Linked DNA regions of Homo sapiens: all the other regions are linked to region 2. The links come from fine-mapping of genetic effects on gene expression. A gene starts in region 2. Each other region holds a variant in brackets. All regions are shown on one strand. Distances are from middle to middle. Region 1 has its middle 21 kb from the start of TRC-GCA1-1. Region 2 holds the start of ZNF783 (zinc finger protein 783). Region 3 overlaps ZNF398 (zinc finger protein 398). Region 4 has its middle 5.8 kb from the start of TRC-GCA1-1. Region 5 holds the start of ZNF212 (zinc finger protein 212).

Evidence for each region. PIP is the estimated chance that this variant, and not a neighbour inherited with it, causes the effect.
Region 1: its variant is fine-mapped to the expression of ZNF783 in B cells (Fairfax 2012, PIP 0.95). The same link has a PIP of 0.9 or more in monocytes.
Region 3: its variant is fine-mapped to the expression of ZNF783 in tibial artery (GTEx, PIP 0.99).
Region 4: its variant is fine-mapped to the expression of ZNF783 in whole blood (GTEx, PIP 0.99).
Region 5: its variant is fine-mapped to the expression of ZNF783 in skeletal muscle (FUSION, PIP 0.93).

What each region holds. Positions count from the first base shown.
Region 1 is chr7:149,286,785-149,291,921 of GRCh38, forward strand. It overlaps the pseudogene LOC155060. Among named protein-coding and RNA genes, the nearest start is that of TRC-GCA1-1, 21 kb to the right of the region's middle. The variant CT/C (reference allele first, on the strand shown) is at 2,200.
Region 2 is chr7:149,259,992-149,264,991 of GRCh38, forward strand. It overlaps ZNF783 (zinc finger protein 783), which reads left to right and starts at 2,205. Exons shown (of 6, transcript NM_001195220.2): 1 at 2,205-2,366. The coding sequence starts at 2,343. It overlaps LOC124901769 (a long non-coding RNA gene), which reads right to left and starts at 2,350. Exons shown (of 2, transcript XR_007060582.1): 1 at 1,656-2,350. RefSeq lists a silencer at 1,803-2,672.
Region 3 is chr7:149,161,303-149,166,428 of GRCh38, forward strand. ZNF398 (zinc finger protein 398) reads left to right here. Exons shown (of 6, transcript NM_170686.3): 3 at 4,856-4,982. It also overlaps the pseudogene LOC100420549. Among named protein-coding and RNA genes, the nearest start is that of ZNF398, 16 kb to the left of the region's middle. RefSeq lists an enhancer at 149-298. The variant C/A (reference allele first, on the strand shown) is at 2,173.
Region 4 is chr7:149,301,806-149,306,942 of GRCh38, forward strand. No RefSeq gene overlaps it. Among named protein-coding and RNA genes, the nearest start is that of TRC-GCA1-1, 5.8 kb to the right of the region's middle. The variant C/G (reference allele first, on the strand shown) is at 3,122.
Region 5 is chr7:149,239,649-149,244,743 of GRCh38, forward strand. It overlaps ZNF212 (zinc finger protein 212), which reads left to right and starts at 3. Exons shown (of 5, transcript NM_012256.4): 1 at 3-154. The coding sequence starts at 131. RefSeq lists an enhancer at 1-64. The variant CTTT/C (reference allele first, on the strand shown) is at 2,373.

The sequences.
Region 1 (5,137 bases), 27 kb after region 2:
CTGAGGCATTCCTGGATTTTAAATTTTATTTCTAGCAATACACAATATATTTTCCACCTCCTGTGAACAGGGTATTCCTTGTAATGTTTCTTTGTTCTTTCCTTTTCTGCTTTCAACTTTCTCTGGCCCCTGTTGCCTGGCAGCTAGGAGGGTGGAGACCACCCTGGGGCTGGTTGACAAGGCACCTGGATCATGGGGATGTGGTATCAGGCGGGGCAGGAAGTCACACCAGTAGATGTCAGGGTGGATGGGCCTTAGAAATCACCAAGGCAGAACAACAGGCCTTTCTCCCCTTGAGCCCACTAAGGGGTGTGGGCTTGTTCTAGAAGAAGGTGAGGAGTCAGATTGCTGCCTGGGTGTGTGTGCACTGGACCCCAGGTCCCCTGGCAGGTGTTCTGGACTTGGGCTTCTCACCATTTCTTGGCTCCTGCTGCTGGCCGTGTTCCCTAGTTGGTTGAGTAATTGGCTGAGTAAATAGAGCCAGTGAGTGGTAGAGCTGGGATCCACTCTCTGTTCATTTATGATGGTAATGTTAGTTATGTCATTTTCCGTTGCCCCGGCTCTTGGTTCAGGATTCTTCTCGTGGGGGCTTTGTGCGGTCCAGTGTCTGCTGTCTTTGACTATTAGGTGGGGTCTGTTTGGGGGTCTGACCAGTGAGGCCGCCTGGCACTCAGAAGACGTCTCCCCCATTCCGGAGAATCCTGACCTTCCTGTATTTGGGAATGGCTCTGGGCTGCTCTCCTTCTGGTGGCTGACTTGCGAACTTGTGTCTGGTTGCAGGACTGGCATTGCGGACTGACCTCCAGGGAGAGGCCCAGATCTGATCTGCAGAGATCTCCCTTCCGGCTATCGTGGCTGCTGTTCAGGTGGTGGAGAAGAAGATGGAACCCCAGGCTGCCTGGCTACAGAGCCTGGAGGGATGCATGTGGACAGCCAAGAAGAAGCTGGCTGACTGCGAGAAGGTGGCTGTGGAGTTCGGGAACCAGCTGGAGGCAAGTGGGCCGTGCTGGGGACCCTGCTGCAGGAGTACGGGCTGCTGCAGAGGTGGCTGGGGAACGTGGAGAACCTGCTGTGCAACAGGAACTTCTGGATCCTGCAGTTGCCCCCGGGCAGCAAGGGGGAGGCCCCCAAGGTACAGGAGCTGGGTGTAGGAGGAGAGGCCCTGCCTGGACTCTGTAGGGTGGCCATATGCATAGCGTCGCCACAGCAGCATACCCTTGGCTGCTGAAGCCTGACCTCTGGGCGTCCAAGGCAGTCACTAGTTGACTTTAAAGGGCTTGAAAAATGTCAGAAGAAAATTGTGACACAGAAAAATGTCTGCTTTGGAAGATGGAATGGGGTTTGTTGGGAGAGATATGGTTGTGCAGCAGTGGTTGTACATGGTCTCTGAGAGTGAGGACTGGCACAAGTAGGAGATATGTGTGCCTGGGAGAGGGGAGAACCCAGGAGCCCCGATCCTAGATCCCATTAGTCACTGGTTCTGCCCTTTAGCTGAAGGCAGTGTGATGGAGTTGAGTTTGCATTTGCTTAGTAGTTTGGCCTGCGATGCCCTCTGCTTCGGGGGAAGGGAGAGGGGACGAGTTGGTTTTGGCTGCTCCGTGAAATGGTTGTTATTCATGGTGGGTGCAGGCAACTTGTACTTCCAGGTGCCTGTGACTCCTGAAGACACGGTCGGGTATTTCTCAGAGCAGCAGGGTGGCGGCCTGGAGGACTCATAGAAGGAGTTCTGCAAATGTGTTGTGAAGGGGAGCTGCGACACCCTGAGCTTCCTGGGTGAGAGGCTGGCCTCTGGGGGCCTCCACACCTTGGTTTTACTCCTTTATTCAATCACATGAGACTCCTGAATCTCAGAGCAGGAAGCATGTGGAGATCATTTCTTCAGCCCTCTGTCTTCAGGCAGGTAGAAGGTATCTGTCATTCTCATTTTGAAGTTTTATGTAATGAAATGCAGAGGTTATGTGACTTGTTCCAGATTTCTTGGAGTAAATAAACTGGAATCTGCTCCTCGCTGTCCTGCCCTTCGCGTGGTGCCAGAGGCAGCTCCTGCGTGCACACCTGTGGCTCACCAGCCTATCTGCTCCTGGGGAGCTGGGGCCTCCCCTGGTTTACATCTGCATCTCTAGGACTCCCACGCTGCACTCTGCACACTGAGTTCTCAGGAGATTCCTGCTGAGCAAAGAAGGATGAATTGTAGGCCTG[CT/C]TTTTTTTTTTTTTTTTTTGAGACGGAGTTTTGCTCTTGTTTCCCAGGCTGGAGTGCAATGGCGTGATCTCAGTCACCACACCCTCCGCCTCCCGGGTTCAAGTGATTCTCCTGCCTCAGTTTCCTGAGTAGCTGGGACTACAGGCATGGGCCACCACACCCGGCTCATTTTATATTTTTAGTAGAGACGGGGTTTCTCTATGTTGGTCAGGCTGGCCGCGAACTCCCAACCTCAGGCGATCCTCCCGTCTCGGTCTCCTAAAGTGCTGGGATTACAGGAGTGAGCCACCAGGCTTGGCCAGGCCTGCTTTTAAGGATGCCCCAGGTCCAGAAAATCAGGGCCAGGCCTGGGAAGTTCGCTCCTTCAGGCAGGTGTGCGTCTTCGTGTGAGACTTGATCAGACCTGGGTTTTTGTAGCTACCCCACTCCGAAGCTCTCCTGCGTGAACCTGGAATTCTCACTGCTTTGGGCAGGTGAGCAGTTGGCTTTTTGTCCAGTCTCTCCCCTTGTTGGGAGGCTGAGGCCCAGAACACAGTGCCTTCCCTCTCTTTGCCTGGCTGCAGAGGTTCCTCCTTCAGAAAAGGGTCCCAGTGTGCTGTGGGAGGCAGGGTGAGGAGGCTGTCCGGCCTCAGGCGAGGAAGGAGAAGCACGTGGAAGGAAGGGCAGCAGGAAGCCTGAGCCTGACTGCCATGGATGGCCAGACCCACTCTTGGGCCTCAGTTTCCTCATCTGTCTGGACTAGGTGACTTGTCTATGTGGGCAGTGGATGGGAACCCTTCCTCTTGGCCTCATGGCACTCACTTCTAGCCCACGAAAACTGAGAGGCCTTGCCCACCCTACTCTCCATGCCCCTCAACACACGCCTTGAAGAGGCTGCTCCAAGCCTAGCAGAACACCCTCCCTTTCCAGGCCTGCAGAGGACAGCCCTGCCACTGCCCTTTTCCTCCCCACAGGCCAGGCCACCACCAAGCCAGATCTGGCACCAGTGGAGAAAGGAGACAGGCAGGCAACTGCAGCCTGCCCAGTGCGGAGAGGGGCCAGAGCCCGGGCACTGGTGAGTCCCTCAGGGTGTGGGCCTGGGCCTCTCCACCTGCATCTGGTAAGGGCATCTGGTGTCAGAAGGCCCCCTTGGAGAAAGAGAGGCAGAGGTGGGGGGAAGTGAACTGCTGGGCCTCACAGCTGGTGGTCAGGGCCAGACCCGGGTGTTCTGACACCCAGAGAGGGCCTGGGCCATTTCCCATACTCCATGTCCCTTTGGAGCCATCGCTTGGCCTGAGACCAGTCTGGAGGCTTGAGGGGAAGGGCAGAGGGCATAGCAGATACCAGGAACCTGAGACAGGCCGTCTTGGTGCATGCAGGGTTCCGGGAGGAGCGACGGGCTGGCGGCCTCCGTGAGACCTGCCCTGACACTGCATCTGCTCCCAGGGCCCTTGGTGCCTGCGTGCATGTCCTCCTCACTTTGCAGCCTAATCCCTGCTTCCTCTCCAGGCTTCACTCTCCTTGGGTGAAGGGACTGAGTCTTGCTGTGTTATCCCCCTCCTCTAGCACCTTACACAGTGCCTGGCATGTACTGAGATTATAAATAATATATAATTACTAAATGAACAGTGAACCAGAATAGAAGCTCAGTTTCCTCCATTTTTCAAATAATAGCATTGGATCAGAATGCAGTTTTTTTTTTTTTTTAAAGGTGAGAACCCTTTATTCCAGTGACAACCAGAAACATATAACATGGGGACAATGGGACCATTCTAGTTGAAGGACAGGAACCCTGGAGCTGGTTGCTCAGAACACAGTGGATCATGCCAAGATACTGCTGCTTGCTTTCTAGATTCTTAGATTTGGGGAGGAAGGCTCCCCTGTGAAGCAGACTCTTTGAGTAGGTAAATTAAGTCACAGTGAGCCCAGAGTGGGGAAGAAGGTGGGGGTTGACAGGGGTACTGAGTGGCTGGCATGTAGGTCCAAGGCTAAAAGTGGCATTTCCAGGCACCTGCAGGGGGCAGGGGCACCAGAGAGAGAGCAGGGTTGAGTAAGGGGTGGGGTGTGGCAGGATGCAGGTCACATAGCCCAAGCTGGGGAGCCCTGAGCGAGAGGCCAGCTGGGCAGAGCGTGGCTCTTGTGGTGTCACTGAGCGTGGCTCTTGTGGTGTCACTGAACGTGGCTCTTGTGGTGTCACTGAGCGCTATTACAGCAGCAGCCTGGCCAACAGCTCCTCCCCTGTGGTGCAGGGAGGGGAGCTGAGCCCAGGCACTGCAGCCACCCCCGTCTTGGGCTGGCCCCCTGCAGCAGGTGTGGGCAGGACTGGGGCATGTTCAGAGGCTGTGGCCGGTGCCACAGTCCCCAGGGCTGAGCAGCTCCTAGGGGGATGCAAAGCAGCAGGCAGGGCCTGGCCAAAGAGCTGCAGGCACGGCTCTGCCATGAGGCTGGGCTTGCACCTGAAGGCAGCTCAAGGAAGCGTGGTGGGTGGAGGAATGAGACCTGCTCAGGGGATTAGGGTTGCCCTACGGTCTGGGTAGTCCTTGCCATTCTAGCAGTTACTTCTTGTTTTCCATTCTCTGTAAACTTTTCCAGATTTCTCCAGGAGAGAGCTTTGTTTACCCCCAAGGACTGGGCTTCACTCCTAAAAGCTGCTTCTAAACCCTTTGCGTGCAGGCCCCAGACAGTGTGGGTGCATGACTGCTTTATCTGTTGGATGTTTCCACAGGCAGGCTGTTGCTGCCAGAATTCTAGAAGCAGTGTAAACGGGCTGCTCATTCATTAGGTACGGGCAGGGTCTGGGCACTGGACTTTCAACACTTTCCTCCCGTGATTCTGGTGCCGTTAGTTTGAAAATCACGGCTCAGAGATCCCTCTGAACAGAAGGTGACCCGCCTCTAGCCATTGAAAGTGTCTATGTTTTGATTATGCAAATGGATTCTTACACGAATATGTTCTTAC
Region 2 (5,000 bases):
TCTTGAACCTGGGAGGTGGAGGTTGCAGTGAGCCGAGATCGTGCCATTGCACTTCATCTTGGGCAACAAGAGCGAAACTCCGTCTTAAAAAAAAAAAGCCACCATGTAATTTTAATTTATATCAGAGCTGGCTTGACACCCCGGCTGGTCTGCTCAGAAACCACATTATGGTGCAAAGTGTTCGTTTATTAAATATATTTATAAAATCTGAGCATGGGAATGGGAGGTAGCTGTGGGACCCTGATAAACAGTGCCAAGGTTTTCGAACTGTGATCACCAGACCAATAGAATCAGCATTTCTTGGGAACTAGTTAGAATTGCAAATTCGCATCACTTTCATCCCCTCCTGTTTCAGACCTAGAAATGTTGAGGTTTGTGCCTAGCATCCTGTATTTTTAACAAGAACCCTCAGTGAACATGATGCACACTGAAGTTTGAGTACCACTGACTTAGAGAAACTTTTTTTCTAAAAAACGAAGACTAGCTGTCAAACATTATAGCACTCTTTCCTCAACAGAGCTCATTAAATCCTAGCATTTTTGTCTCCAGCCCATTTTCCTGACCCTTTCTTTCTTTCTTTTTCTTTTTTTTTTTTTTTGAGATGGGGTTTTGCTCTTGTTGCCCAGGCTGGAGTGCAATGGCATGATCTCGGCTTACTGCAACCTCTGCTTCCCGGGTTCAAGCGATTATCCTGCCTCAGCCTCCAGAGTACCTCACCACCACACCCAGCTAATTTTTTGTATTAGTAGAGATGGGGTTTCATCATGTTGGCCAGGCTGGTCTCGAACTCCTGACCTCAGGTGATCCATCCGCCTCAGCCTCCCAAACTGCTGGGATTACAGGCATGAGCCACGGCTCCTGGCCCATTTTCCTGACCCTTTCTGTTTGCATTGGACCTTAACTGTTATTCTATAACGTCACCATTTACTGGTATTTTATAATCCTGAATAGATTGGACTGATCCCTGATAAGATCCTAGGGATGCTCTTAATGTCTTTAGTGCATACTTGCAGTTTGTGTTTTAGATTGGGATAGTTCAACAAGAATTTCCAAAATGAATAATGCCAAATATTTATTTGATTTGTTACCTTAAAGTAACACGTCCTAACCTTTCCGCAAATTTTGGGGTTCACCTTACTTAGGATATCAGTTTGTGTTTTTTCTGATAGTTGACCACGCTTTTGCTTGGCTCAAATATTTGTGAAAATAACTTCTCACCCTCACCCCCCCCCCCCAAAAAAGAAAAAACAAAACCAAAACCAAAAAACCCCAAACAAACCCAAACACAGAAAGAAACAAAACTGCAGATTTCTAGCGGGAAGAGTTTGCCAGCTTGTTGGACAAAGACTGTGAGATGAATGGGAAATGCAGAAAAGACAGAAAACAAAGCTTCAACTGCATACAGCACATTTAGTTCAATATGCCTCAGCACAGGCCGAGGAAAATGGGTCCTGCGGTTTATTCAAGATGCCTCAGGGCCTAAATGAGGGATGGACTGATTCACACTTGCTGTGATCTCAGCCTGGACCAAAGCTACAGAAGGGTCCTCGTGGGTGGCTGAGGACTTTCACCAGGCGGGCCCCGGGAGGAGGAAGGGACCCCAGAGTCCTCAGGAGGGGAGGGCAGGCTTAGGAAAAAAAAAAAAAAAATCCTACCATCTTCACGTTTGTTCTGTCAAATTTAAAAGAGACTTTAAAAACGTTCATGTAAGTTTCCCTGGCTTCTCCCTGGGTACACACGTATCCTTTTTACTTTCCCCAACTCAGTTCTGTGGTGCGTGGGAGGCGCTGCAACAGAGTCTCGGTCCGGACTGGAGCCCCGGCGAGGGCCGACCCCGTTCCCCACGCAGCTTTCCCTCGCGAGGTTTCGCACTTTCCAGCGCGGTTCCTTCCCGCAGCCCTCCCGGCTCCCGCGTGGGACGCAGAGAGAGGTTGGGCGCCGCGCTGGCCCGGGAGTGGCTTACGCCTGACGTAGCCCCGCTGGAGGCCGTGGCACGCCCGCCCTGGCGTCAACTCCCGCGCCCCGGGTGAGGGTGGGTGGCCGCGCCTGGGTCCCGGACGCCGCGGGCGCTGAAGGCCTCGGGAGGGCGCGGGGCGGCGGCCGCGGGCGTGCGGTCCTACGGGCTGCAGGGGGCGCTGTGCGCGTCCTCAAGCTCGGCCGCCGAGCGCAGCTCTTTTTTAAAGGGCCAGCGGGGCACGTGGCTCGGGACGCAGTTCGCTGCCGCCCGGCAGTAGCTCTCAGGTTAGGCGGGTCCCGCTCCGCTTCCGCCGTCGCTGCCGCGCCGCCCCGGGCCCGACAGGCCGGGTCCAGGGACTGCAACCCAGCGAGGGACGCGGGCAGCCATGGCCGAAGCGGCGCCTGCCCGGGTAAGCGCCCTCGGCCCCGCGGACGCCCGGAAGGCCCAGGCCGCCGCCGCGTGAGCCCGCGCGAGGGACTCTGGCCGCGCGAGGCCGCGGGGTGAGAGGGCCTTGCGCGCAGCCTCCGCGCTCGTTGCCCCCGGCCCATCGCCCAGCCCGCGTCGAAGGCATTGACCGGGCGGCCCAAATGCCAGGCCCGGCGGGCGGGGCCCCGACGTCAGCGGCTGACGATCCGGCCCATCTGCGGCCTCAGCCAGGCCGGGCCCCAGAGTCACGCTCGGCGACGAGGAGGCCGCGCCTTAGGAGTATTGTCCCATTTGAGGCCTCGCGGCCCCCCCTACAGCAGGCTGGGCGGGCAGGGGCCGCCAGCCCCACGGGACAGTAGCGGAGGCTGAGATGGGAAGGGACAGGCCCAGGGTCACGCATCTATTAGAGGCGGGAGCCTCACGCCGGGGCAGGGATTTTGGAATTAGACACTTTAAAACGCCTCATATTCTACTTTTGCCAAAGAGAAAGATTGTGTCGTTTACAAGAGAGATAGTAGATTTTTTTAAAAAAGATTACTGTAGCAGATTTTATTTAATTTTTTTTTTTGAGAGGGAGTCTCGCTCTGTTGCGCATGCTGGATGGAGTGCAGTGGCACGATCTCGGCTCACTGCAAGCTCCGCCTCCCGGCTTCAAGGGATTCTCCTGCCTCAGCCTCCCAAGTAGCTGGGACTACAGGCGCCTGCTACCACGCCTGGCTAATTTTTCTATTTTTGGTAGAGACTGGGTTTCACTATGTTGGCCAGGCTGGTCTCGAACCCCTGACCTCGTGATCTGCCCGCCCCGGCCTCCCAAAGTGCTGGGATTACAGACGAGAGCTACCGCGCCCGGCCATTTTAAAATTTTTTAATTAAAAAAGTATATATATATACGTGTGTGTGTGTGTGTGTGTGTGTGTGTGTGTGTGTGTGTATATATATATATATATATATTTTTTTTTTAGACACAGTCTCACTCTCACCCAGGGTGGAGTGTAGTGGCGGGATCTCATCTCACTGCAACCTCTGCCTCTGCCTCCCGGGTTCAAGGTATTCTCCTGCCTCAGCCTCCCAATCCCAAGTAGCTGGGATTACAGGCGCAGGTGCCTGTCTCATTTATATCTATCTATCTATCTGTCCAGATACATATCTATATGAATAAGTTTATTCATAAGAATACACTATAAGTATTCCTATACAGAATTTTTCTCCTGGAGAAGGAAGAATCACATCAGTTTTTTTGGCATCTTCATCTATATAAGTTAGGCCAGTTTAGCAGATTTTAGAATCTTGGTTTGATATAGTGCAGTATGTCCAATTGGGAGATTATAATCCTTTGGCCATTTTTGACATACTGGAAAACGCTTGTAAAGGCTCAATAGATGATACCTACTATTATTAATACACCTCAGTGAAGGTTTTGAAACCTTGATTTTTCTGGATACTTTTATTAAAGTATAACTTCCTCTCCCTCCTCTTAGTGAGTGTGCTGAGCTTCTTTTTGGGTTCCCTGAGTGCAAGGGAGAGAAAAAGCGTTGAGGATTCTGCAGGTTTATAGTCCTGTTCCCTGGGAAGAGGGGGCCCTAGAAGGTGACATCATCCACTCCCCCTAGCCTGGGGCTCACTGCTTCACTACCTTTCAGATCACTCCTGTCCACCTGCTCCTCCCTTCTTGCAGCACTTGAGATCCCAAAAAACTCCCCAAAAGGGACAGATTTGCCCTGGACTCTTGTTAGCCCATCCTATCACACTGTTGTTGTTTATAAGTATTCCTATACAGAATTTTTCTCCTGGAGAAGGAAGAACCACATCAGTTTTTTCTTCATCTTCACTGTACATTTACTATGATAGGTGTTCAGTAATTGTTATTGAATGAATGAAGCAATTATAGATTACTAGTGCTAAGGGGGAGGGGCAGTGAAAATCTCTAGGATGCGTTGTCTATGCTAGAATCTTAAAAACGAGAGAGACTCAGGCATACAGAGGATGCATATTGAGAGCTGATGTGAAGTTGGAGGAGGGCCGGGTGGGTCCTCGGAATCCACAGGAGGCTGGCATGGCTGGAGCACGACAGGAACTGGATGGCTCAAGGTCAAGAGAGGTCGGCTGGGCCATGAAGAAGTCTAGATCTTATGCCAGGTACACTGGGAAGCTATTGAAGAGTTTTAAGCAGGGTACTGAAATGATCTATTTGTGTTTTTAAAAGATTACCAGGCCGGGAGCAGTGGCTCACTGACTCACGCCTGTAATCCCAGCACTTTGGGAGGCTGAGGCGGGCGGATCACAAGGTCAGGAGTTTGAGACCAGCCTGGCCAATATGGTGAAAGCCTGTCTCTACTGAAAATATAAAAATCAGCTGGGTGTGGTGGCGGGCGTCTGTAGTCCCAGCTACTTGGGAGGCTGAGGCAGGAGAATCGCTTGAACTTGGGAGGTGGAGGTTGCAGTGAGCCGAGATTGCGCCACTGTACCCCAGCCTGGGCGACAGAGCAAGACTCCGTCTCAAAAAAAAAAAAAAAAAAAAGATTAACAATTACTCTGTGGAAAGTGTATTGTCGGGGAGAAGCCTGGAAGTAGGGGAGAAGGCTGGAAGTGGGGGAGAAGGCTGGAAGTGGGGGAGAAG
Region 3 (5,126 bases), 99 kb before region 2:
CAGGGCTTTGGGAGGCTGAGGTTGGAGGATTGCTTGAGGCCAGGTGTAGGACACCAGCCTGGGCAACATAGCCAGACCCATCCCTACAAAAATTATGTTTCTAAAGATTGACTCGCCATAGTGGCATGTCACTTCCTGACTCGTCCCAGCTACTCAGGAAGCTGAAATCGGAGGATGACCTGAGCTCAGGAGGTCGAGGCTATAGTGAGCAATGATCACATCACTGCACCCCAGTTTGGATGACAGAGTGAGACCCTGTCTTAAAAACAAGCAAAACAAAACAAAACCAAAACCAAAAACAACTAGTTACCAGATTCTGAATGCCTAACATACAAGCATACAAGGTGGCAGGATGAGTACATAAAGTCGCAAAAAGTACTCAAGTGCCTATTAAATGAAAAGCAAACATACCAGGAAAAACTTCAGCTCCTGCTTGAAGAACTAAGAGGGGAATTAGTAGAAAAGCTAAGGACTTAGAAGAAATGAAGCTGCAGGTAATTAACTCCAAAAAAAAAAAAAAAGGGGAATTGTTAAAAGCCCAAATACAGCAAGAATTAGAAACTCCAGTGTTTTTGCAATTGGGATGAAGAAGTGGAAAAGTATAGAGCTGCAAGCTTTGCTATAAACATACATTTCTTAAATAGAATCTGAAACACTAGGAAGAAGAATTTACATGTAGTTTAGAAAAAAACTCTAAAATTTGAATTAGAGATTTATTTTTATTTTTACTTATTTATATATTTTTCAAGACAGGGTCTTGCTCTCGCCTGGGCTGGAGTGCAGTGGTGCTATCTTGGCTCACTGCAGCCTTAAGGCTCAAGTGAGACTCTTGACTCAGCCTCCCGAGTGGCTGGGACTACAGGTGTGCATTACCACAGCTGGTTAATTTTTTTTTTTGAGTCGGAGTCTCGCTCTGTCGCCCAGGCTGGAGTGCAGTGGCGCAGTCTCGGCTCACTGTAACCTTCGCCTCCTGGGTTCACGCCATTCTCCTGCCGCAGCCTCCCGAGTAGCTGGGACTACAGGCGCCTGCCACCACGCCTGGCTAATTTTTTTATATTTTTAGTAGAGACAGGGTTTCACCATGTTAGCCAGGATGGTCTCGATCTCCTGACCTCGTGATCCGCCCGCCTCGGCCTCTCAAAGTGCTGGGATTACAGGTGTGAGACACTGTGCCTGGCCCCACAGCTGGCTAATTTTTAAATTTCTTTATACAGACAGGATCTCACTATGTTGTCCAGGCTGGTTTCGAACTCCTAACCTCAAGTGATGCTCCTGCCTTGGCCTCCCAAAGTGCTGAGATTACAGGCATGAGCCAGTGCACCTGGCCTGAATTATAGATTGCAAGACTGGGGAAAGATGTAGAACTATATAACCAGCTGCTTAGTGTTGATCCCACAAGAGGCAACAAATGAGTAGAGGAACTTGTTTGAGAAAAAGTCCATTTGTTTCAGAAATTAAAATAATTCATAGGCTGGCTGGGCACAGTGGTTCACGCCTGTACTCCCAGCACTTTGGGAGGCCGAGGTGGGCAGATCGCCTGAGGTCAGGAGTTTGAGACTAGCCTGGCCAACATGGCAAACCCCTGGGTGGGGGGAGGGGGGCGGCGGAGGTTGCAGTGAGCTGAGATCGTGCCATTGCACTCCAGCCTGGGCAACAGAGCGAGAGTCTGTCTCAAAAAATATATATATATTCATTCAGAGGCTGAAGTAGCAGATTTAACGGCTGAAAAAGAGAATTCTGGTGCTCAGTTAGAAAACGTCCTAAGAATACAGGTGTGACAGTTGGCTGAGATGCAGTTACAGTCAGGTCCCAGTAGGCCAAAAATGTCACGTAAACTGTAGGTTAAATGCTCGGAAAAAGAGCCACAATCAAACAATGAACAAAATACCTGTTTTGTTTGTTTGTTTGTTTGTTTTTTTCAGACAGAGTTTCACTCCTGTCGCCCAGGCTGGAGTGCAGTGGCGTGATCTCAGCTCACTGGAACCTCCGCCTCCCAGGTTCAAGCGATTCTCCTGCCTCAGCCTCTTGAGTAGCTGGGATTACAGGCATGCGCCATCATGCCCAGCTAATTTTTTTTTTTTTTTTTTGAGATGGAGTTTTGCCCTTGTCGTGCAGGCTGAAGTACAATGGTGTGATCTCGGCTCACCGCAACCTCCGCCTCCCGAGTTCAAG[C/A]GATTCTCCTGCCTCAGCCTCCCAGGTAGTTGGGACTACAGGCCTGTGCCACCACGCCCCTGGCTAATTTTGTATTTTTAGTAGAGACGGGGTTTCTCCATATTGGTCAGGCTGGTCTTGAACTCCCGACCTCAGGTGAGCCACCGCGCCCGGCCAAGCCCAGCTAATTTTTGTGTTTTTAGTAGAGACAGGGTTTCGCCATGTTGGTCAGGCTGGCCTCAAACTGCTGACCTTGGGTGATCCACCCGCCTTGGCCTTCCAAAGTTCTAGGAGCCACTGCGCCTGGCCAAAGTACCTTTTTAATCATTAAAGATTACATAAAACTGAACAAGAAAGAAATACCCTGACCAGGCTGGGAGTGGTGGCGGTGGCTCACGCCTGTAATCCCAGCACTTTGGGAGGCTGAGGTAGGTGAATCATTTGAGGTCAGGAGTCGAGCCCCACCTGACCAATATGGTGAAACCCCGTGTCTACTAAAAATACAAAAATGAGCCAGGCGTGATGGTGTGCACCTGTAATCCCAGCTACTTGGGAGGCTGAGGCAGGAGGATTGCTTGAACCCAGGAGACAGAGGTTGCAGTGAGCCGAGATAGCGTCACTGCACTCCAGCCTGGGTGATGGAGCAAGACTCCATCTTAAAAAAAGAAAGAGGGCCGGGCGCAGTGGCTTGAGCCTGTAATCCCAGCACTTTGGGAGGCCGAGGCGGGCAGATCACAAGGTCAGGAGATCGAGACCATCCTGGCTAACACGGTGAAACCCCATCTCTACTAAAAATACAAAAAATTAGCCGGGCGTGGTGGTGGGCGCCTGTAGTCCCAGCTACTTGGGAGGCTGAGGCAGGAGAAGGGCGTGAACCCGGGAGGCAGAGCTTTCAGTGAGCCAAGATCGCACCACTGCACTCCAGCCTGGGTGACAGAGCAAGACTCCGTCTCAAAAAAATAAAAATAAAAATAAAAAAAGAGAAAGAAAGAAATACACTGAGCACTAAAGTCAAAGAACGAAACTTTCAAGCATACTAGAAATAACAGCCATGAAACTAGAGGCAGCAAGAGTGAGCTAGAAAGGGAAAGGAAAAAGATTCAAAGTGAACTGGATGGTTTACTGTCAGACAATGAAATTCTGAGACCAGCTATTGAACACCACAAAGTGCCCTTAGTAAAAAAAGATCATATATTAATATGTAAGGCACCAGATGCCAAGGAAGAAGGTTGTAAAAGACTTCTGGCATTACAGGATGAAAAGCTAGAATTTGAAAACAAGTTAGCAGATAGAAAATGAAAGTGGATCATGATGTCTGCAAGCAATGTGAAAAGCATCAGTGTGAAAAGAAATTGTGGGAGGCCGGGCACGGTGGCTCACACCTGTAATCCCAGCACTTTGGGAGGCTGAGGCAGGTGGATCACGAGGTCAGGAACTCGAGACCAGCCTGACCAACGTGGTGAAACCCCATTTCTACTAAAAATACAAGAATTAGCGGTGTGTGGTGGCGGGTGCCCGTAATCCTGGCTACTTGGGAGGCTGAGGCAGGAGAATTGCTTGAACTCGGGAGGCAGAGGTTGCAGTGAGACGAGATCGCGCCACTGCACTCCAGCCTGGGTGTACAGCGAGACTCTGTCTCTAAAAAAAAAAAAGAAAAGAAAGAAAGAAAATGCAGAGGAAGAAAAAAACGAAAATTTTGACCTGGAATAGTAAATCAGTAGTTTTCAGATCCAAGTTACCTCACTTGCAGAGTTCGAACCGAATGCTGAAAGAAACGATGGAGACATTAAAACAGGAATGCTGAAATATAAGAAATCAAGCTGAGAAAGTCTAACTAGAAGTCAAAAAGACATTGGAAAAAGAACAGACACAGCAGTTAGAAGAAAAGCATATGCTTCATGAATGTATCTCAGGGAAATGTACAGTCAAGCTAAAGAGAAATTGCAGTGAGCTGCAGTTGCCCAGAAAAACAGGAAATCTTGCCGTGAAAACAATTGAAGAGATGGCAGGACAAGGTGTAAATCTTGGAGGCAGGTAGAGAAGAAATGGAAACAGAAAATTGGGTTTTAAATAGACAAAATGTTCCATTTGAAGAATGTACAAAGCTTCAGAAAAGACTAAAGGATACACACAGAAGACATAATGAATTTTGAAGTTTAATTTTGGTTCCTAACATGCCTCCAAAATCAATCCTGTTTGCTCTCAGTCATCAGCCATGGTATTATCCTTTCCTCCTCATGTGCACGATGAACAGCATCAAAGGGAACTCTGTACTTGGCAAAAGACTAGAGGAACTAGAAACAACACAAAGAAAACAAATAGAGGAATTTGGATCTCCTGGAGAGTGATGTTCTTAGAGAAAAGGCATTTTAAAAGAGGTGAAATCAAAGACTCAATAAAGCTTGAAGTTTTAACATACATGGTATTTAGATATTTTATTACTGCTTACCAAAATACTCGAATGTGCCTCAAGAAAAGGTACCAGCTTTATTTAAGGGACTCGTGCTGTATTGCATGAGTACTAGGATTTTAGGATTTTCTAATGACAAGTGAAGCATTAAAAGAAACCATTTCAGAGATATTTAGAATATTTATTGACCACCCTTTGAAAATGTAAAAAAAATAAAAGGAACTAATTGGAAAGAGATTTATTGAATGACTGAATTATAATGGAAGGGACTAACCCATGTGATTGTAATTTTAGGTGCCTGTGGCATTTGATGATGTCTCCATCTACTTTTCCACTCCAGAGTGGGAAAAATTAGAAGAATGGCAAAAGGAACTTTACAAGAATATCATGAAGGGCAACTACGAGTCTCTCATCTCCATGGGTGAGGCTGAGTTGACACCTTTTGAATGAAGTGACAGCAGCTCCAAGAGGGCTCAGAACAGTCCCTTTTCCTCCAGTGACCTCATTCTCACTCTGTCTTCACACACTTCAAATTCTGGTTTCAAGCCAAAATATGACCAATTAA
Region 4 (5,137 bases), 42 kb after region 2:
CTGCACAGGTTCATGCCCATAAAGCGCTCCTGATCTAAGTGGTACTTGAGAGGTGTTAGTATCACCTGTTCCAGGCACTGCTGAATAGAGCAGGAGTTCCAGACAGAGTCCTGCTCTTTTACTATGAAATCACAGTGCAGTTGGGGGATGTGAGTTTATGTATTCAATAATTCATTTCAGTAGCATTTTCCATGCTAAGTCCTGTACATTAGATATATCAAATATGCGGGATCTGCAGTGAGAGTCCATGCTCTGAGATGTGTGTGAACGTGCATGCGTTAGATGTGTGAAGGGCTTGAATGGCTCGAATCCAATACAAAGCAGCAATAATGAAATAGACTACACGTTGATGTGGGAACCCGGGAGAAGGGTAGACTGGCCGTCAAGAGAGTCAGGGATGAGCTCACAGGAGCATGACGCTTGTGCTCGGTCTCAAAGAATGAGTAAATGTCTTCAGGGACTCTCCAAGGCGTGAATCCCGTCCAAAGGCCTCAGCCACCCACCTCCGCCGCCACCTCTGCTACCATCCTGCCTCAAACATCATGCTCCACAGCCAGGCCTTCCCCTGGCTCCCTGCACTGCCCACTGGGGGCCTCCCTCATGGCCAGGGTAAACGGCCCATCTTTCTACCTGGCCACGCTGGCCATGCTTCCAGGCCTCTGCTCTCGCTGGTCCTCTGCCCGAGAGCCCTTCCCTTCAGACATTCGCATGGCTTGCTCCCCGCTCCTTTCAGATCACTTGCAGATGTCACCTCTGAATGCTCCATCTAAAATACCACCCTACTTGCTGCTGGGGCCCCTTCTCTTTCCCCCACTCTGCCTTATGTGTCTTCACAGCACAGATTTGCACCTGACATTAATTATTTGATTATTATCTTTTTAAAAAAATTATTTATTTTTTGACACTGGGTCTCCCTCTGCCACCCAGCCTGGAGTGCAGTGGTGTAAACACAGCTCACTGCAGCCTCAACTTCCTGGGCTCAAGCAATCCTCCTGCCCCAGCTGTCAAGTAGCTGTGACCACATGCACATGCCACCACACCTGGCTAATTTTTGAATTTTTTGTAGAGATGGGGTCCCACCGTGTTGCCCAGGCTGGTCTTGAACTCCTGGACTCATATGATCCTCCTGCCTCTTGCTCCCAAAGTGCAGGGATTACAGACGTGAGCCACTGTGCCCTGCCTGTTTGATTATTATCTACTCCATGAGAATGGGGATGTTGTTTTGTTCCTGCTTGATGCCCAGTACCTAGAATAATGCCTGGCACATAGTAGGTGCTTACTAAATATTTGAATTATGAAATGAGTGTTTTGTGTCTGTTTCTACTAAAATGTAAATTCTTTGAAAGCAAGCACCATGTTCTTCATCTCTGCATCTATCCTGTTTAGCACAGAGCCTGGCACAGAGGAGATGCTTCATAAACATTACCTGATCTCTTCAAATGGCAACATAACATTCCACTAAGTGAATGCTGTTAACCATTCCCCTACTACTAGACATTTAGAGTTTTTTTTCTAGTTTTAAATTAAAAATAATACAGTGATAATCTTAGGTTTCTTATTTTTCATGGGTGTTTATTTATTTAAAATAGATTCTCAGAAGTGGCATGACTGAGTCAATATAATAAATACAATATTGCCAAAATTGCTTTCCAAAAGGGTTGGAGAGGATTGAAAATGTGGAAAATCCCATTTTACCCTTGCCATCTTAAAATGTTAGTGCTAGATAACAAACAAGCAGAAACAAAAACAAAACAACAACAAAAAGTACTGTGTTGACGGTATTGGTCAGCCCGGGCTGCTAAAACAAAATACCATGGACTAGGCAGCTTGAACAACAGAAATTTATTTCTCACAGTTCTGGAAGCTGGAAGTCCAAGATCAAGATGTGGGCAGATTCTCTCCTGGCTCTCCTTAGGGCTCTTCTTCTGGCTTGCAGACATCCTCAACATGTTGGGGAGAGAGGGAGAGAGAGTGGGAGAGAAAAGGAGAGAGAGAGAGAGAGATGTGGAGATGTGGTCTCTCTTCATGTAAGGGCACTAATCCCACCCTGGGGCCCCACCCTCATGACCTCATGTAAACCTAATTACCTCCTAAAAGCCCTACCTTCAAACAATATCACTTTGGGGATTAGGGCTTCACCATATGAATTTTGGAGGACACAGACATTCAGTCCATAACAGTAACCAAGAAAAGTTTCTGGAAGGCAACAGCATGACCAGATTCATTTTGTGTGCATTATGGGTTGAATTATTTCCCCCTCCCTTTTTTTTTTTTTGACATGGAGGCTCGCTCTGACGCCCAGGCTGGAGTGCAATGGCACAATCTCGACTCACTGCAACCCCTGCCTCCTGGGCTGAAGCAATTTTCCTGCCTCAGCCTCTCCAGTAGCTGAGGCCACATGCGGGTGCCACCACGCCCAGCTAATTTTTGCATTTTTAGTAGAGACAGGGTTTCACTGTGTTGGCCAGGCTGGTCTCGTACATCTGACCTCAAGTGATCTGCCCCGCCTTGGCCTCTCAAAGTGCTGGGATTACAGGTGTGAGCCACCACCCCCACCCCCCAACAAATTTATATGTTGAGGTCCCAAACCTCAGTACCTCATAATGTAACCATATTCAAAGATGAGGCCTTTAGAGAGGTGATGAAGCTAAAAAGAAGCTGTTAGGGTGGGGCCCCAATGTAAGAGGACTGGCGTCCTTATGAGAAGGGGAAGACACCAGGATGGGCACACACAGAGGAAAGGCGTGTGAGGACACAGTGAGAACGTGACCACCTGCACACCACAGAGAGGCCTTAGGAGAAACCAGTACCACTGACACCTTGATCTTGGGCCTCCAGCCTCCAGGACTGTGAGAAAATAAATGTCTGTTGTTGAAGCCATCCAGTCTGTGGCGTCTTGTTATGGCAGCCTGAGTGGATTCATGGTGGGTCAATTGCTGATGTTTTGGAGAGTGAACAGCTCATAGGACACGGTGAACCAGCTGCAGCTTCCTTCGGGCTGCGTGGAGGCTGCCGGCACCACCCCACAGGATTCTTCTCTGTGTGGATGCTCCTGGGGGTTTGCTGAACGCTGTGGGCCCCAGGAGGTACTAACTCTTTTTGCTGGCGGGAGAAGGCGTCC[C/G]TCCAGGGGCTTGGATTGGCCTTTATCTTTCCAGAAATATTTGCTGAGCCCGAGTCATGTGCTATGTGTTAGGTGATGGGGCTACAAGGCAAGTAAGGCAGGGTCCCCAAGGCTTAGACCAGCGGGGATGCCTGTAAGAAACAAATCACTACACTCATGCTAGAGTCAGTGTTTTGGGAAATTTAACGTAGGGTTCCTGGACATTGCAAGTATGTGTCCTTTTTAATTTGTATTTTATTATAATATACAGACAACTGGGTTTGGGAATCATATTACTCCTGTTTTTTTTTTTTTTTTTTGAGACGAAGTCTCACTCTGTCTCTCAGGCTGGAGTGCAGTGGTGCCATCTTGGCTCACTGCAAACTCTGCCTCCTGGGTTCAAGTGATTCTCCCACCTCAGCCTCCTGAGTAGCTAGGATTACAGGCACCCGCCATTATGCCTGGCTAATTTTTGTATTTTTGTAGAGACGGAGTTTCACCATGTTGACCAGGCTGGTCTTGAACTCCTGACCTCAGGTGATCCGCCTGCCTCGGCCTTGCAAAGTGCTGGGATTACAGGCATGAGCCACCATGTCCGGCCACTCCTAGTATTTTTAAAAAATATTGTGGGTGTTTTAGTATTTTATATTTACTTTTTGTTAGGAAAAAAGGTACATGTTTGTGTGGGAACATAGAGGCCCAATGGGAAGGGGGCAGAGAAGGAGATGAGGTGTGACCCCATCACAGAAGGGGTGACACCTAGGCTCCGGTGAGTTTTTGTTCTTGTTACATTCTCTTCCTTTTTAGAAAGGTAAGAAAATATTGACACAATAATATATCTACATGGTTCAAAATTCCAGTGGCACAGAAACAATGGTATCTCCTCTCACTCTTGTCCCCAGCCACCCATGTCCCCTCCTCGCAAGCAATTGATGTTCCCAGTTTCTTGTAGATCTTTCTAGAGTTTTTTCATGACATAAATGCAAACATGTCATCTCCCCTTTTCTTCCCCTCTACAAACAGTAGCAGGCTATGGCGGAAACACATTTTCCTTGCTTGCTTTTCTGTTTCTTCTTGGCAATCTTTCCCTATCAGTACATAAAGAGCATCCCCATTTGTAAAGGGTTGCCTGGCATTCAATTGTACGGCTGTATGTAATTTATTTAACAGTCCCCAGATGAGGGACAATTAGGTTGCTTCTAATGTTTTATAATTTAAAATGATGTGGCTACAGAATAACCTTGCAGACATCATTTCACAATTGTGTTTATAGACCTCTTAGTTTCTAGAAGTGTAATTCCTGGGTCAAAGTTATGTGCTTTTAGCATTTCAAAAGTTCTTGCCAGGTGCCTCCTTAGAGGTTGTATCAGTGTACACTCCTACCAACAACGCAGAAACATGCCTGTTCCCCATACACCCTGAATCCCTAGTGTGGTATCAGACTTTGTAGTTTTTAGCATCTTAAAGGAGTTTACCTGGAGGTCTTGGAGAATGAGGCTGGAGGAGGAGAGGGAGCTGGGGTTGCAGCTGTTGTGAATGAGGCCAGAAAGTCAGGGAAACTGGAATGGGAGGCAGGGAACTCTAGGCTCTCCAGTGAGCCGTGCTTACTCTCTGCTGCAATAACAACACTAGCCATCGTTTATGAAACATTTGCTATGGGTCAGGCACCACTCTAAGGCTGTAAGCCTGGAGTCAGACTCTTGTTCTGAAAAGGGCCAGATTGTACATGTTTGTTATTCTATAGGCAAAATAGTCTCTGTTGGCAACCACTCAGCTCTGCCTTTTTAACAGGAAAGCAGCCACAGACACCAAAGAAATGAACCAGAGTGGCTGTGTTCCAAGGAAACTTTATTTATGGATGCTGAAATTTGATTTTCATATAATTTTTGCATGCCACAAAATATTTTTTGAAGCAACAGCAAATATTTATTGAACACTTACTCTGTGCCATTAAAAAACAACAACAATTGTTTCATTTACTTTTCCCCAAGTCCCATGAGGGCCCATTTCCCATCCCCCCAACCAAGCCATTGAGAA
Region 5 (5,095 bases), 20 kb before region 2:
CCAGAATGCACCTGGCATCAACACGGCGGCGGCGGCGGCGGCTTCCAACAGGCTCTGGGGCGCCGAGCGGACAGGAACGCAGCACGGGGGCTCCGAGGCGGGGTCTGGGTGTTGAGGGGCGACTGGAGCCATGGCGGAGTCGGCGCCTGCTCGGGTAAAGAGGCACCGGCGCGCTGGCTCGAGGGCGCGTTGGGGATGGCGGAGTCCCCTGCCGGGGGCGGGGCTTCGCGGTTTGGACGCCGCCGGGGTCTTGGTTTCCCGGGGCTGCCGTTGGCGCGGGTGAACGCGGACCCTCCTCTTCGCGACCCCAGTGCTCTGCCCTTTTTTCCCTCCGCTTCCTTCTGCAGCGGGGTCGGAGCCTCGGCGCCGTGCGCCCTTGCCCAGAAACTTCTCTGACGCTTGCTTTAGGTTGGTGGATTTGTGACCCTGCCCACACATTTTCTCTTTCGTGCCAAAAGAGCCCGTTCCCAGGTTGGAGTGTTTCCAGATTGGAAACGGTCTCCGTCGCTACGAGTGAGCTCTCCCGCTGCCCGGGAGACCCCAGGACTTGCCTCTCTGCGACCACCTCCTCTTCGGTCCGATGTGTTGTCGGTTTTTCCAGTGCTGCAGATTTCTGTCTGGGGGTTGCAGCCACAGGTTGAAGTCAGCCTGGGCTGCTTCTCCTTGGGGACGGATGTTATCTACAGTGCAGTTGCTGCATTTTGTTTGTAGAGCTGCCCAAACTCTCTCCTTCACCCCCCCCCCAACACCCCCCTCCCAGCCCACCGACCATCCCCATTCTGGGAATGTCAAGATACGGAGTTTGGTGTGAGGAAAATCCTATTTGTGGAGTCACGAAGCTTTCAGCTGTCCATTTGGGTGATTTTAGGCAACTGTGTTCGCTTCTCTGGGTCTCTTTCGTTTTCTTAACTGTAAATCGAGAGTGTTGGAGTAGTTGCTAGATGATCTCCAAGGCTTTAAGTTTCCTTCCAGCTCCGACATTCTCATACTGTTCCCATACTGTTTCAAAGTAGTGGTTAATTTAACAACACCAGAGGGTTTGCAACGGAAGGGGCAGCTGGAATTGAATTGACTTTTAATGAAGTGTTCCTTGGTCTAGAAACACTTCGAGAATCATGTTAGATCTTTGTGAGAATGGAGGGCTAAGGAAATTCTGTGGGGAAAATTTGACCATGAGCAGGGTGCGCTATATTTGATTCTTGTAGAAAGTGCGTTAAGAACTAAGAACGGAGAGATTGGGAGACTTAGAGAACACAGTATTTGCTTTCAAGGAAGTTAACAGTTGAATTGGGAAGACAAGACACAAATGTTTACAATATTAACCTCATCTGACTCCTATAAGCTAGGCTGAGCCAGTCAAAGACTTGGCTTTTCCACAAGATCTAGTTAGTGTTAGAGTCCGGCGAGAGGATTCTGCCACAGTTCTTCCTGCCAGGTCACTCCACAATTACCTACATGTCGTCAGTAGACCTTGTTAGGAAGAAGCCTTAAAGGTCCACCACAGGCCAGGCGCAGTGGCTCATGCCTGTAATCCCAGCACTTTAGGAGGCCGAGGAGGGCGGATCACGAGGTCAGGAGTTCAAGACTAGTCTGGCCAATGTGGTGAAACCCGGTCTCTACTAAAAATACAAAAATTAGCCGGGCGTGGTGGCGGGTGCCTGTAGACCCAGCTACTCGGGAGGCTGAGGCAGAATAATCGCTTGAACCTGGGAGGTGGAGGTTGCAGTGAGCTGAGATCGTGCTATTGCACTCCAGCCTGGGTGACAGAGCAAGACTCTGTCTCAAAAAAAAAAAAAAAAAAAAAGTCCACCACAATCCCAAACTATGCCTTAAATAACATGAATCTGTCGTTGTAGAACTTATTCAAATTGTTCTTGAGCCTGTTTCTCTTCTCAGACATTTCAGGTGTCTGTCATTTAACAGTAAGCTCAAGTAGGTGCCCTGATGAAACAACTGAAAATGCTGGAAAACCCTGCACATAAATGCATTTGAAATGTATTTTAGTAAAGAATACTTGGAGCCCCAAAACTTAAGCGAAAGAGGAAACTCGAAAGTGATAGAGTTCTGAAGCCAACTTTGAGGGCATTGGCCAAACATTCATCTTTGGTGTTTATGATTCAAGGGACCTGCAAAATGGAACACACATCTCAGAGCCTAAGATGGAAAGTCTAAGAAGCTCCCTAACCCAATCCCATGAAGCAGAGAGTTCAAAGGGTAACATTCTGTGTAAGGGTGAACTGAAAGTAAGGTCTGACCTTCAGATGATTGCAAAGTAAGTTGTTAAACCTTGGCACTGAGATTACAGGCGTGAGCCACCGTGCCTGGCCATAGTTTCGTTTCTTTTCTTTCTTTTCTTCTTTTTCTTTTCTTTT[CTTT/C]TTTTTTTTTTTTTTTTGAGAGAGTCTCGCTCTCTTGCTCTGGCTGGAGTGCAGTGGAGCAATCTTGGCTGCCTGAAACCTCTGCCTCCCAGGTTCTAAGCGATTCTCCTGCCTCAGCCTCCGGAGTAGCTGGGATTACAGGCATGCGTCACCATGCCTGGCTAATTTTGTATTTTTAGTAGAGATGGGGTTTCACCGTGTTGGCTGGGCTGGTCTCTGAACTCCTGACCTCAGGTGATCCACCTGCCTCGGCCTCCCAAAGTGCTGGGATTACCACTGCATGAGCCACCGCACCCGGCCTAAGGCAGAGGGAATTCTTAAAAGCAACCAAAAAAAAAAAAGACTACCTTGAAATGAAGTACAGCAAAATGAATGGGGGCCAGCTTCTCAACAGCAACCATGGAAGCTAGGCAAAAGTAGAATGATATTGTCAATAGGCTGAAAGAAAGTAACTGTGGTCCCATAGTTTTATATGCAGCAAAAATGTTTCAGAAACAAAGATGTAAAGAAGACATTTTTAGACAAATTAAAAATGACAGTTTGCTACCAATACACTCTTAGAAAAGGAAATTCTAAAAGATATACCTCAGGTAAAATGAAAATTTTCCCAAATAGAAAGTCTGAAAATATGAGAAGATGTGATGATGCATGGAAATGGTTAAATCTAAACAAATAGTGACTTAATAAAACGTAACAATTTCTTGTTGTGTTAAAAACAATTAAAATACATGATGGCATTGATGTAAATATGAGGAAGAGATGATCAGAACTAAAGTGTTTAAAGGGCTTTGTTAAAGGGCCTTCTATGTATGTTTCCCATAATTTCTAGGATACTTGCTAAACAACTCGAAATTGGTCGTATAACTTACAGATCAGAAAGGGGGATAATGGAATAAGAAAAAATTAATGTAAAAGAAGACAAGAAAGTAGAGAAGAAAGATGGGATAAATAGCACAAAAAAGGTAAAAATAAATCAAAGCTAATGAACAATTACAATAAATGTAAATGAATGAAATGTTCAAGTTAAAAGGCATAGATTGTCAGGATGGGGGAAAAATCCAACTAGATGGTTTAAAAGAGTTACAACCGGCTGGGCGTGGTGGCTCACGCCTGTAATCCCAGCACTTTGGGAGGCAAAGTTGGGTGGATCATGAGGTCAGGAAATTGAGACCATCCTGGCTAACACAGTGAAATTCCGTCTCTACTAGAAATACAAAAAATTAGCCAGATGTGATGGTGGGTGCCTGTAGTCCCAGCTTCTTGGGAGGCTGAGGCAGGAGACTGGCGTGAACCCAGGAGGCGGAGGTTGCTGAGGCAGGAAAATCACTTGAACCTGGGAGGCAAAGGTTGCAGTGAGCCAAGATTGCGCCACTGCACTCCAGCCTGGGTGACAGAGTGAGACTCCGTCTCAAAAAAAAAAAAAAAAAAAAAAAAAAGAGAGAGAGAGAGAGATACAACTAAAAGATAAGGATATAGAAACAGTTGAATATAAAAGGTCATGAAAAAATATGCCAAGCAAATACTAATGAAAATAAAGTTGACAAATATATTTAGTATCTTTAGAGATAGAAGGCTCCTACTACTTTTGTAATGGTAAAAGACTCAATTTACCAGCTAGATACAAAATTTCTAAACCTGTATGCACCTAATTACATAGCCTAAAAATATATAAAACAAAACTGACAGAATTGCGAGAAAGATTCACTGTTATAATAGGAGATTTTAATACAACCTTAGTATTTTATCAAATAGAAAAGACTTATAAGGGTGTAGTGCATCCAGTAGAACTTCCCAAGATGATAGAAATGTTCTGCTCTGCACTGTTTAATACAGTGGCCACTAGGCACATGTGGCTTTTGAGCACTTGAAATGTTAGCTAGTATGATTGAGGAACTGAGTTTTAAATTTTATTTATTTATTTTGAGACAGACTCTCACTCTGTCACCCAGGCTGGAGTAGAGTGGTGCAATCTTGGCTCACTGCAACCTTGCAACCTCTGCCTCCCAGTTTCAAGTGATTCTTCTGCCTCAGCCTCCTGAGTATCTGGGATTACAGTCATGTGCCACCACACCCGGCTAATTTTGTATTTTTAGTAGAGACAGGGTTTCATCATGTTGGTCAGGCTGGTCTTGAACTCCTGACCTCAAGTGATCCGGCTGTCTTGGCCTCCCAAAGGGTTGGGGTTACAGGCACGAGCCACTGTGCCCGGCTAATTTTATTTAACCAGCCACATGTGACTAGTGGATATTATATTGGAAGCACAGGTACAGAAATGATTATTTTTATTTTTATTTTTATTTTTTTTCTGAGACAGAGTCTCTCTCTGTTGCCCAGACTGGAGTGCAGTGGTGCGATCTCGGCTCACTGCAAGCTCCGCCTCCCGGGTTCATGCCATTCTCCTGCCTCAGCCTCCCCAGTGGCTGGGACTGCAGGAGCCCGTCACCACGCCCGGCTAATTCTTTTGTATTTTTAGTAGAGATGGGGTTTCACCATGTTAGCCAGGATGGTCGCGATCTCCTGACCTCATGATCCGCCCACCTTGGCCTCCCAAAGGGCTGGAATTATGGGCGTGAGCCACTGCACCTGGCCAGAAATGATTTTTTTAATCCATATATCTATCAGTATATAATATCAAAGTGTAGAGACAAAATGAAAACAAAAGAGAGGAGGCAAAAATAAAAACCTATTGGGAATGAAAATGTGTGCATTCCCATGTCTAT